Regions from separate parts of the Homo sapiens genome. Here regions 1 and 3 are each reported to be linked to region 2. The links are microRNA targets in miRTarBase. Many come from high-throughput screens and were not tested one by one. Region 2 holds a microRNA gene; each other region holds the end of a gene's coding sequence.

The links. Region 2 holds the annotated microRNA hsa-miR-3190-3p (UGUGGAAGGUAGACGGCCAGAGA, at 2,084-2,106, opposite strand). A microRNA usually pairs through its seed, bases 2 to 8, with sites in the 3' UTR of a target mRNA and lowers its output. Matches are read on the target gene's strand: a 7mer-m8 pairs with bases 2 to 8, a 7mer-A1 pairs with bases 2 to 7 and ends in A, and an 8mer does both.
Region 1: miRTarBase lists OVOL1 as a target of hsa-miR-3190-3p. Seed matches in the 3' UTR shown: 7mer-A1 at 1,139-1,145.
Region 3: the mRNA of E2F2 is a reported target of hsa-miR-3190-3p. Seed matches in the 3' UTR shown: 8mer at 526-533.

What each region holds. Positions count from the first base shown.
Region 1 is chr11:65,794,829-65,797,828 of GRCh38, forward strand. OVOL1 (ovo like transcriptional repressor 1) reads left to right here. Exons shown (of 4, transcript NM_004561.4): 4 at 218-2,386. The coding sequence ends at 513. The region is part of intron 4 of LOC124902693; the gene reads right to left. Among named protein-coding and RNA genes, the nearest start is that of OVOL1-AS1, 5.5 kb to the left of the region's middle. RefSeq lists enhancers at 912-1,412, 2,992-3,000.
Region 2 is chr19:47,226,094-47,229,093 of GRCh38, reverse strand. MIR3190 (microRNA 3190) reads right to left here and starts at 2,152; the gene lies at 2,073-2,152. It overlaps BBC3 (BCL2 binding component 3), which reads left to right. Exons shown (of 4, transcript NM_014417.5): 2 at 648-936; 3 at 2,340-2,530. The coding sequence starts at 663. It overlaps MIR3191 (microRNA 3191), which reads left to right and starts at 2,075; the gene lies at 2,075-2,150. RefSeq lists silencers at 598-1,037, 2,258-2,557, 2,927-3,000, 2,588-3,000 and an enhancer at 1,070-2,012.
Region 3 is chr1:23,507,056-23,510,055 of GRCh38, forward strand. E2F2 (E2F transcription factor 2) reads right to left here. Exons shown (of 7, transcript NM_004091.4): 7 at 1-3,000. The coding sequence ends at 2,825. Among named protein-coding and RNA genes, the nearest start is that of E2F2, 23 kb to the right of the region's middle.

The DNA of each region.
Region 1 (3,000 bases), not on the chromosome of region 2:
CCTGGGAGGGCATCCCGGAGCTCAGGGCCAAAGTCCTCCTGAGCTCATCAGTTAGGAGTTTTGATTTGAGAGTCACTCGGGAAGTTGGTGTTGGACAGGCCTCCGTCCATCCCTTGGCCCTAGAGGCAGGGGTCCTGTCCTTTCTGTGTCTGGAAGCAGCCGACAGCCTCTGAAGTCCCTGCCAGGTCTCTGATGCTGGCCCCTGTCCTCCCCACAGGCGTGCGGCCCTACAAGTGCAGCCTGTGTGACAAGGCCTTCACGCAGCGCTGCTCTCTGGAGTCTCACCTCAAGAAGATCCATGGTGTGCAGCAGAAGTACGCGTACAAGGAGCGGCGGGCCAAGCTGTACGTGTGTGAGGAGTGCGGCTGCACATCTGAGAGCCAGGAGGGCCACGTCCTGCACCTGAAGGAGCACCACCCTGACAGCCCGCTGCTGCGCAAGACCTCCAAGAAGGTGGCCGTGGCACTACAGAACACTGTCACTTCCCTGCTGCAGGGCAGCCCCCACCTGTGAGTGGCTCGAGCCCTGGGGGTGCTCCTGGAAGCCCCAAGAGCATCCAGGATTGCCTCCCAGCTGCCTGGCCAGCCCACCCTCCTGCAACCTCTCACCCGAACACCAGTGATCAGGACTGGAGCCCCCGTGCCTTGGTCTCCCCCCTGGGCACACGTGCTCACTCAGGCCCAGCAATGACCTCTGCTCATTTTTGCATTTTTGACTTATGGGCCGAGGCTGTTCTGAGCCTGGGAAGATGTACCTATGTCAAGAGAAGGGATGAGGCCAAGGCTGCCTTCAATTAGAAGCAGCCGCCCACAGAGACAGGCACTGTGTGCCTGGCAGCAGGACTTCCTACCCAGAGGAGGTTCGAGCTAGGATCCCACTGCCCCCGCCTCTCAGCACAGGGCAGGGGCTGCAGGTCCCCAGTGGACATCAGAGTCAAAAGCACTGGCAAAGGGTACCCCTGCAAACAACTGTGGTGGGGGCTGGCAGCAGACCCCCCACCTGGCAGGGCTTCTAATGCTCAGGGTTCTGGAGGGCTCTGTCCTTCCGGCAAGGAGAGGCACACATGTGTGCCCAGCCGTGTGTGTGCGTGTGCTTGTGTGTGTGCACTGCTGTGTGTGTGTGCACGCACAGGAAGCCTTTCCACATATCACCTCATTTCTAAGAAATAAACTACAAGGTGCCAAGAAGGTTTTATTTCCTTTTATTTTTTAAAGATGACAAATGTACAGATGTTAATATATTTTTGGTGCCAATGGCGATGTTTTTAAGAGTGGGATGGAGCTGGCTTTTCTCCATTCCCGTGCGCTTCTATTTATCCTGGACATTTCAAACCTCCTCTGTGCCTTGGCTCTGGGCGGGGGCTGCCCCAACCCACCCCCGTTCTTTGTACGTGCTGAGACAGCCACTAGAAGATCTTCCTCCAGCGGCGCCCTGGACGGCTGCTCCTGCGAACAGCCCATGGCATCTTCTGCTCTTCCCTCCCGGCTCTGCCCTGCACATCCTGTTGAGCCAAGCCCCAGTGACCCGGAGAGCTGGCCTGATGCTGAGAGTGTGTCCTCCTGGGGCTTTAGGGGGCAGGAAGGTGGGACGAATGACGATGCCCATCCACTACCTGAAGCACTAGGACACTCTTGCAGGGCCAGGCTGGAAGACCGGCCCTTTTCTTGGTTGAGTCAAAAGCCTTAGCACAGTGGCAAAAAATGGGACAGAATGATGACCAGCACCTCAGAAACTTCCAGAGGGAGGAGAGGATTTGATGGCTACCAAATTGTATCTGTTGCCTTTTTTCTGACTTTTTCACCTGACCAGGCTGGGGTTTGGAGTGGCTGTGGGGAGACCCGTCCTGGCTGGCTGGCTGGCTCCCTTGCTCCCTTGCTGCAGCTGGGAAAGGGGTTCTGGGTGTAAAGAGGTGTGCGTCTTGTGGGCCAAAGGGAAAAACAGGCAGGGGTCAGAGCCAGCCTGCCAGAGGCAAATGCAAAAGAGGTCCCCAGAACACAGCCAGCTGGGCAGCCCCTTAAAGCCAAACCCCACCTGAAGCAGAACCACTTTGGCCTCCCCTGCCCAAAATGGGTAGTGTCTACACGTCCCCGGGCTCAGGCTCAGGCCCAGCCCTGGGCTGACCTGAGAGGAAGGCTCCTTCCTGGACTGCCCTCTGAAATGTGTATAGATTGATTCTAAAATCTCTTGTTTCACTTGACTTTAGAGTGTCTGGGACGCTGCTGTATTCTGAAAGTCACATAGCACACAGTAATGTTATCTGGAAGCTCTGTTTTTGTTTACATTTCTGTATCCCTGGGTTGACTGCCAATCCGAGGCCGTCATGAAGCTCTGTGTTGTCTGTTTTATTTTATAACCTTCCTCTCAACTATTAAAATTAGAGATCTAATGTTTTCTGTGTTTCCGATGTTTTTGTCTTATGGGCCCCTTTTTCCCCATGCAGAGAAGTAATGGAAACAATTGACACATTCTTATCCAAACCCTTCCTCGTTACGGTCACTGGGGGGCCCTGGTCAAGACAAGAGCCTGGCCCAGATAGCTTAAGTGACCTGCCCAGGGCCTCAGACAGTCACTGCCTGCTGAGTCCTGGTTTAGCATGCTCTGCTCTCAGCAGCGGCAGCAGCGGGGCGCCCTGAGCTCCATCCATCAGCCTCATACTACCCTGCATCTACCTCTGCCAGGCCGAGACCGCCAGGCTTTATGTAGTCACCCGGGGATCCAGTCTTGGCCTCCCAGGACCCTCCCAGGGTTAGACCACAGAAGGAGCCACAGTCCCAAAAAGAGGGTGCAAAGCTCACATCACTTCTGGTCAGACACTTAGGGACGGCCACACTCTGTGTCCACACACCTAGGGACAGCCATATGCTGTGTCCATGCACCTAGGGATGGCCACACCTGTGCCCACGCACCTAGGGACAGCCACACTCTGCATCCAGGCACCTAGGGACAGCCACACTCTGTGTCCACGCACCTAGGGACGGCCACACCTTGTCCACGCACCGA
Region 2 (3,000 bases):
ATGTGTGGGGATGGATTGTGCCAGCCAGTGTGCGCAGTATGTAGAGTGCTTGTGATGGTCTGTCTGGATGCTCCTGCTTTGGTCGGGGGTGTGTGTGTATTGTGTGTACTGAGTAGTGATGTCCGAGACTGGGGCCATCTCAGTGTTTGTGTGCAAGTGGGAGGTGGGGTGGGCGGTCAGGCTGGCCAGTCCCGTGTGAGTCCTTGTGTGTGTGCTGTGGGGGCCTCGCTGTGCCTCACTGCCCTCCCTGTGTGCCCGTCGCTGTGTTGGGAAAGTTGTCCCCACCAGCCCATGCTGTGAGTCCCAAGTGGAGTGAGTTTGTGTTGTGGGACTGTCACAGCCCTCATACACACACCTGCTAGACCCCTCCATCCGTCCTGTGTGAGCCCTGTCCTTGCTGTGAGAGCCGTCCTGTGCCCCCTGTCCCTCCTGTGTGCCCATCACCGTATGCACGGGAGGCTCTCCAGGCCAGCCAGGACCCGGTGGTGTCATCCCCCGGCTGGGCGTGTCTCTGTGGGGCCGTCACCCCCTCCGCATGCACACACACCTCCACTCTTCTCCATCTGGGTCCTAACCCCGGGTAGGCTGGAGGTACAGTGGGCCCTGGTACTTCCCTGCTGACCTGCTCCTCCTCCCGTGTCCCGCAGGCCCCAGGGAGCGCCATGGCCCGCGCACGCCAGGAGGGCAGCTCCCCGGAGCCCGTAGAGGGCCTGGCCCGCGACGGCCCGCGCCCCTTCCCGCTCGGCCGCCTGGTGCCCTCGGCAGTGTCCTGCGGCCTCTGCGAGCCCGGCCTGGCTGCCGCCCCCGCCGCCCCCACCCTGCTGCCCGCTGCCTACCTCTGCGCCCCCACCGCCCCACCCGCCGTCACCGCCGCCCTGGGGGGTTCCCGCTGGCCTGGGGGTCCCCGCAGCCGGCCCCGAGGCCCGCGCCCGGACGGTGAGTGCCCGCCCCGCCCCCGGGGTGATAGGAGCCGGGAAGAGAGAGGGCTGGAGACTCGGAGGAACTGGAGAAGTGGGAGAGGACGGGGGGAGGTGGCGGGCCCAGCCGGGCCACTGGGAGGGTGTGGCCAATGTGGTCTTTGTGTTGCAAGAAGCAGGAAGACGGAGGCTGGGGGTGGAGGGGGAGGTCAAGTGGGAAGTCCCTCCTGGAATCTGACTGCAGTCCCCGAATTGCAGCCCACTGTCTCTTCCGGGCCTGGGGCAACAGCTGCATCCCAGCTCCCCTCCCCCAGTCTGGGTCCTCTAGACCCCCTGGAGGATTCCTGTTGCAGGGAGAGTGGGCCGAGCGGGAGGACTGTCAACTCTGGCCTCTGGGGAGGGGTCGAGAGGCCTTTTGCTTTTATTTGCATCTCTTTGGCCAGGGGCTGTCCTCAGCAGTCCCGGCGGAGGAAGGAGAGGGGGAGGGGCCATTGTGTTGGGAAGTCCCCTCGGGGAGGTGGGGGAGTCTTGGGGAGGGAAGGGTTAAAGGTCCCCTGCCTGATGGGCTGTTAACCCTGTGGTGCCCGTGGAGCCCCATCCCTGCCGGCAGGCGCTCTAGGGAAAGTGTGTCCTGGTTTCCCATCCCCCATCTTGTCCCGGCAGCCCAAGGGGAGCGAGGAAAGAGAAAACTTCCCTAACTCAGTTCCTGGAAGCCCTGGAAGGGGACACCGATTTCAAGGCCAAGGTCACAGATGTGGAAACTGAGGCCCTGGCTGTAGGCCTTAGGGAACCCTCAGGCCAGGACCTGGTGGGACGGGAGGGCAGGAGCCTCCTAGGGCGCTCAGAAGTGGGGGGGGGGGGGGGGCAGGAAGGCATCTCCCGCGTCCCAGCCCCCCAGGCCCGCGCTCTGAAGCTGCCACAGTCTCTGGCCTTCTGGTCTCTAGGCCTCTGCCACATCCGGAGGTGTGGCTTCCCTGTGGTTGGACACGAGAGGGCAGGAGACCTGAGGCTTGTGATCTGGGTGGGGTCAGTCACTGTATCCCTGTGTGACCTTGGGATACTCCCTAAGGGCGGGCCTCAGTTTCCCTGCCTGTCACATGGAAAAGGCAAAATGTGGCCCCTTTGGAAAATAGAGGTCGTTAAGCCTGACCACCCCCGGGGTCACCTCTCTGGCCGTCTACCTTCCACACTGACAAGGGCCGTGGGGACGTAGCTGGCCAGACAGGTGACCCCAGAGCGGCGTCCCCAGGTACTTCTTGCTTTCTGGTGCCTGTGGAGGAGAAGCTGAGAAATTGACTCACTAGCGATGGGATCACTAGAAATGAGGCGGGGAGCAGTGGCTGGGAAAGAGGGGAGCAGGCCGAGACACCTCGAGGCCTGGAGGGGTGGTGGGTGCTGACCGCGCCCCTCTGCCTCTCCAAGGTCCTCAGCCCTCGCTCTCGCTGGCGGAGCAGCACCTGGAGTCGCCCGTGCCCAGCGCCCCGGGGGCTCTGGCGGGCGGTCCCACCCAGGCGGCCCCGGGAGTCCGCGGGGAGGAGGAACAGTGGGCCCGGGAGATCGGGGCCCAGCTGCGGCGGATGGCGGACGACCTCAACGCACAGTACGAGCGGCGGGTGAGTGCTGGGGGTGGGGTAGACGGCAGGTGGGACTTCCGCCGGAGGAGGGGGCGGCAGGCGGCCCCCGCCAGATGTGCGGCAGCTGCTGCCCTGCGCGGCTGGGTCGCTCCGCGGACAGGCAGGTGGGGGGTAAGTGGGTGGGGGGGAATCGCGCGCCCGCAGAGCCGCCCAAGGACTCCGCGCCGCGGCTGGCATAGCCGGAGCCCGAGCCAGGGCCAGGGCCAGGGCCAGGGACTAGGCCGCCGAGGAGTGGAGCTGCGCGCCCGTGGCCCGCGGCCGCGGGGACTGAGGGCGGCGCTGGGCGGCGCGGCTCATATATCCCGGGCTATTTATAGCCGGTGAGTCAGCAGCCGCGCCGCGCCCGCCCCCTGCCGTCCCTCTCGCGCGGCCCGCAGCGCCACACAGTTTCCCGGGCGCCGGGGCGGGCCGGGGACCGCAGGGGTGGGCTCGCAGCCCCGCCCCGCGGG
Region 3 (3,000 bases), not on the chromosome of region 2:
TGGATGATTTCCTGGAGCCCCAAGCTTTAGAAGTCCCTGGGGACACGAGTGATTTTTTTAGGGGGGCTGCTGGTGGGGCTGGGAAGTTTCCTGGCAGAAATTATTTACCTCAGAAAGACACTGGCTTTTCTCTTACCCTCGTTTTAAAGTCTACCTGGTCCCTAAAGAAAATACCACTCAGGCTGGGCCTGGTGGCTCGTGCCTGTCATCTCAACACTTTGGGAGGCCGAGGTGGTGGATCACTTGAGGTCAGGAGTTCAAGACCAGCCTGACTAACATGGCAAAACCCCGTCTCGACCAAAAATACAAAATTAGCCGGGCGTGGTGGTGCATGTCTATAGTCCCAGCTACTCTGGAGGCTGAGGCAGAAGAATCGCTTGAACCTGGGAGGCAGAGGTTGCAGTGAGCCGAGATCAGGCCACTGCACTCCAGCCTGGGCAACAGAGCGAGACTCCATCTCAAAAAAAAAAAAAAAGAAGAAAAAAAGAAAAGAAAATACCACTCAAAATGTGTCCTGAAGCACTCTGTGGAAGTCGGGAGGCTTCAAGTGTCACTGGCAAGACGGGGGCATGAGCTTGTGTCCTGCACTGAATCTGAGGCTTAGCCTGGGAGGTCTAGCCCCTTGGCCAGGCAAGGTGTGAAAGGGACAGTAGAGGGGGACAGAGGCAGCTGCTGAGCACACGGGGCACAAGCCTGAAGGCAGCTCCCCTGACCAGCCATATGGAGAGGCCTCTAGGGCATGAGCTTACATTCCAGACTTCAGTATTAAACTCATTCCCAATGGGTCCTGCAGGCCCCTTCTTCCTTTTCTCTGATGTAATTCTTGGGGAAAGCTCCAGAGCCCAAGGAATGGGAGTCAAACACCTCTGACTTCAGAGATGGCACATGGCTAAATGGCAGCCCAGTGGAGACCTCAGAGCAGCCCACTCACCACAAACGAGATCCTACACAGGGTCCCTGAGCATGCTGGACTTTAAGACGGGCGTCTGATAAGACCCTTGTGAGTATTTGGGTAGGAGACCAAAAGCATTTCTGCAAAGGGTACACAATTAGCCCTGCTTATAGAGTGGGGGCAGCTGTGACCCGCTGACCACTCCTGGGAGGGGGCTAACTTGGGGGCCCAGGAATTTGAGCAAATGATGAGGCACAATTGTCCCCAGCTGGGCATTAGATCACATTGGGCCCCACCCTGAAATAATCCCTCGTCTCAAACTTCAGACATCAGTCAGTCAGCTCAGGAGCCATCCAACAAAACCAACTTCATATTTTAAACCAGCTTAATGCTACAAACTTTTCTAAAAAGTGCTGTCCAGCTGAGCCTCTGAGAAAACCTAGCTCCCTGAGGGGTGGATGGCAGGCCTCTCAGACCAACCCCTGAGCCTCTCTCCAGAAGTCATAGCCTTGGTTCAGCCCAGAGCACCCACATCCCAGGGTGGGTGGGGGAGAAGAGCAGCTGAGCTGAAGGGACAATGTGGGATGATCAAGCCTCTGGGGGAACAGGCTGAAGCCAAAAGACCCCCTCAGGACCCCAGGCCTGCAGAGGTAACATGAGTTCCTCTCCCCATTAGCTGTGAAGGCCTGGTCTGCCATGAAGACCTCTCTCTGTCACCCCTTCAGTATACCTGGGAAAAAAGGAGTGAACAAGTCACCAAGCCCCAGTCACCTCTGTCCTTGGGGTCTGAGTGAGCTCTGAGGGGTGGAGTCCTTAATGAACCATCCCCTTCAATAACATGGTGAAAAAATTCCTCCCAGGGAAGCAGAGAATGATGCCAGTGCCACATGGGGGGCAGAGGGGATGCTTTTGGCAGTTTTTTGTTTTAATCTGACCCTTCTTTACAGTGGGGCTGCCTCTGCCTACCAAGTCCTTGGTGCAAAATGGCTCCTGGACCAGCGCAAGGCAGAAACTCTGAGGAAAAGTGCCCGCCACAGCCATGACAGCTGCCCCCATGCTCCTGTCTGTTTTCCACGGGAGCTTGTCTCTGCTGGACCATTTTTACATCTCAAGGGGAGAGGTAAGGACTTCCTCAGGAAAGGGGTCTCCTGAGCAGGTGGCTCCTGTTTCCACAGGAGCCTCAGTGCTACCTGCCCTAGGATGGCTCCCTGGGACCATCTCTGGGACAGAGGCGACCAGGAAGCCAAGACCGGCAGCTCAGCTGGAGATGTGAGGCCAAGAACAGGGGAAGAGGCAAAAGGGCCCACAGCTGCCGTTTACTAGAACCATGAGGCCTAAGTGCAATTAGCATTCTAGCAGACTGGACAGCCCCTCAGAGTCCCAGCCCCCACCACAGTGGGGAAACCAAGGATGTAGCCTGGGCCCCTCCCTTGGAAACCCAGACCTGCCCTGGAACATGGACAGTGATGGGCCTGTCTGCAGAGGTCTCACTAAAAACTAGAACAACCTCCCTGCTAAAACTCAGGGAGGACAAACAAACAACTCAACCTGAAATAAATACAAAGGCATTATGTGCTTCTTGGTACGTCGAGGGTCCTAATTACCCCTCAAAAGGAGGTAGCAGGGCCTTTCCCTGGACTTGGCCACCTCACCTGCAGCCTTCTTGTGAGAGGTCAGAAGTCAGAAGACTGGATGGGCCTCCCTAGGCCCAGCTTCCATTAGGAAGGTGAGGACCACCCCTTATCCACTCCTCACCCGTACCATTCATATCTCCCCACACAGCTTCTGCCGGCTGGGGCAGGAAAGGCGAGGAGACCCCATGCCCTGAGGGCAGCACCTAGTGTCCAATGTCCCTGTGCAGGCAGAGGGGCTGTCAGCCTGTCTGTGAGGAGGTAGAGTCGGGGGCAGGCTGCTGGGGGCAGGCAGGGCCACTCAATTAATCAACAGGTCCCCAAGGTCGTAGGAGTCGAAGAGATCGCTGATGCCCTCACCCGCCTCCAAGCCCCACAGGTAGTCGTCCTGGTCCAAGGATGGGGAGAAGCTGATCAGAGGGGAGCTGCACGCCAGGGTCGGGGACAGGAACTGGTCCTCAGTCTGCTGCAGGAGTG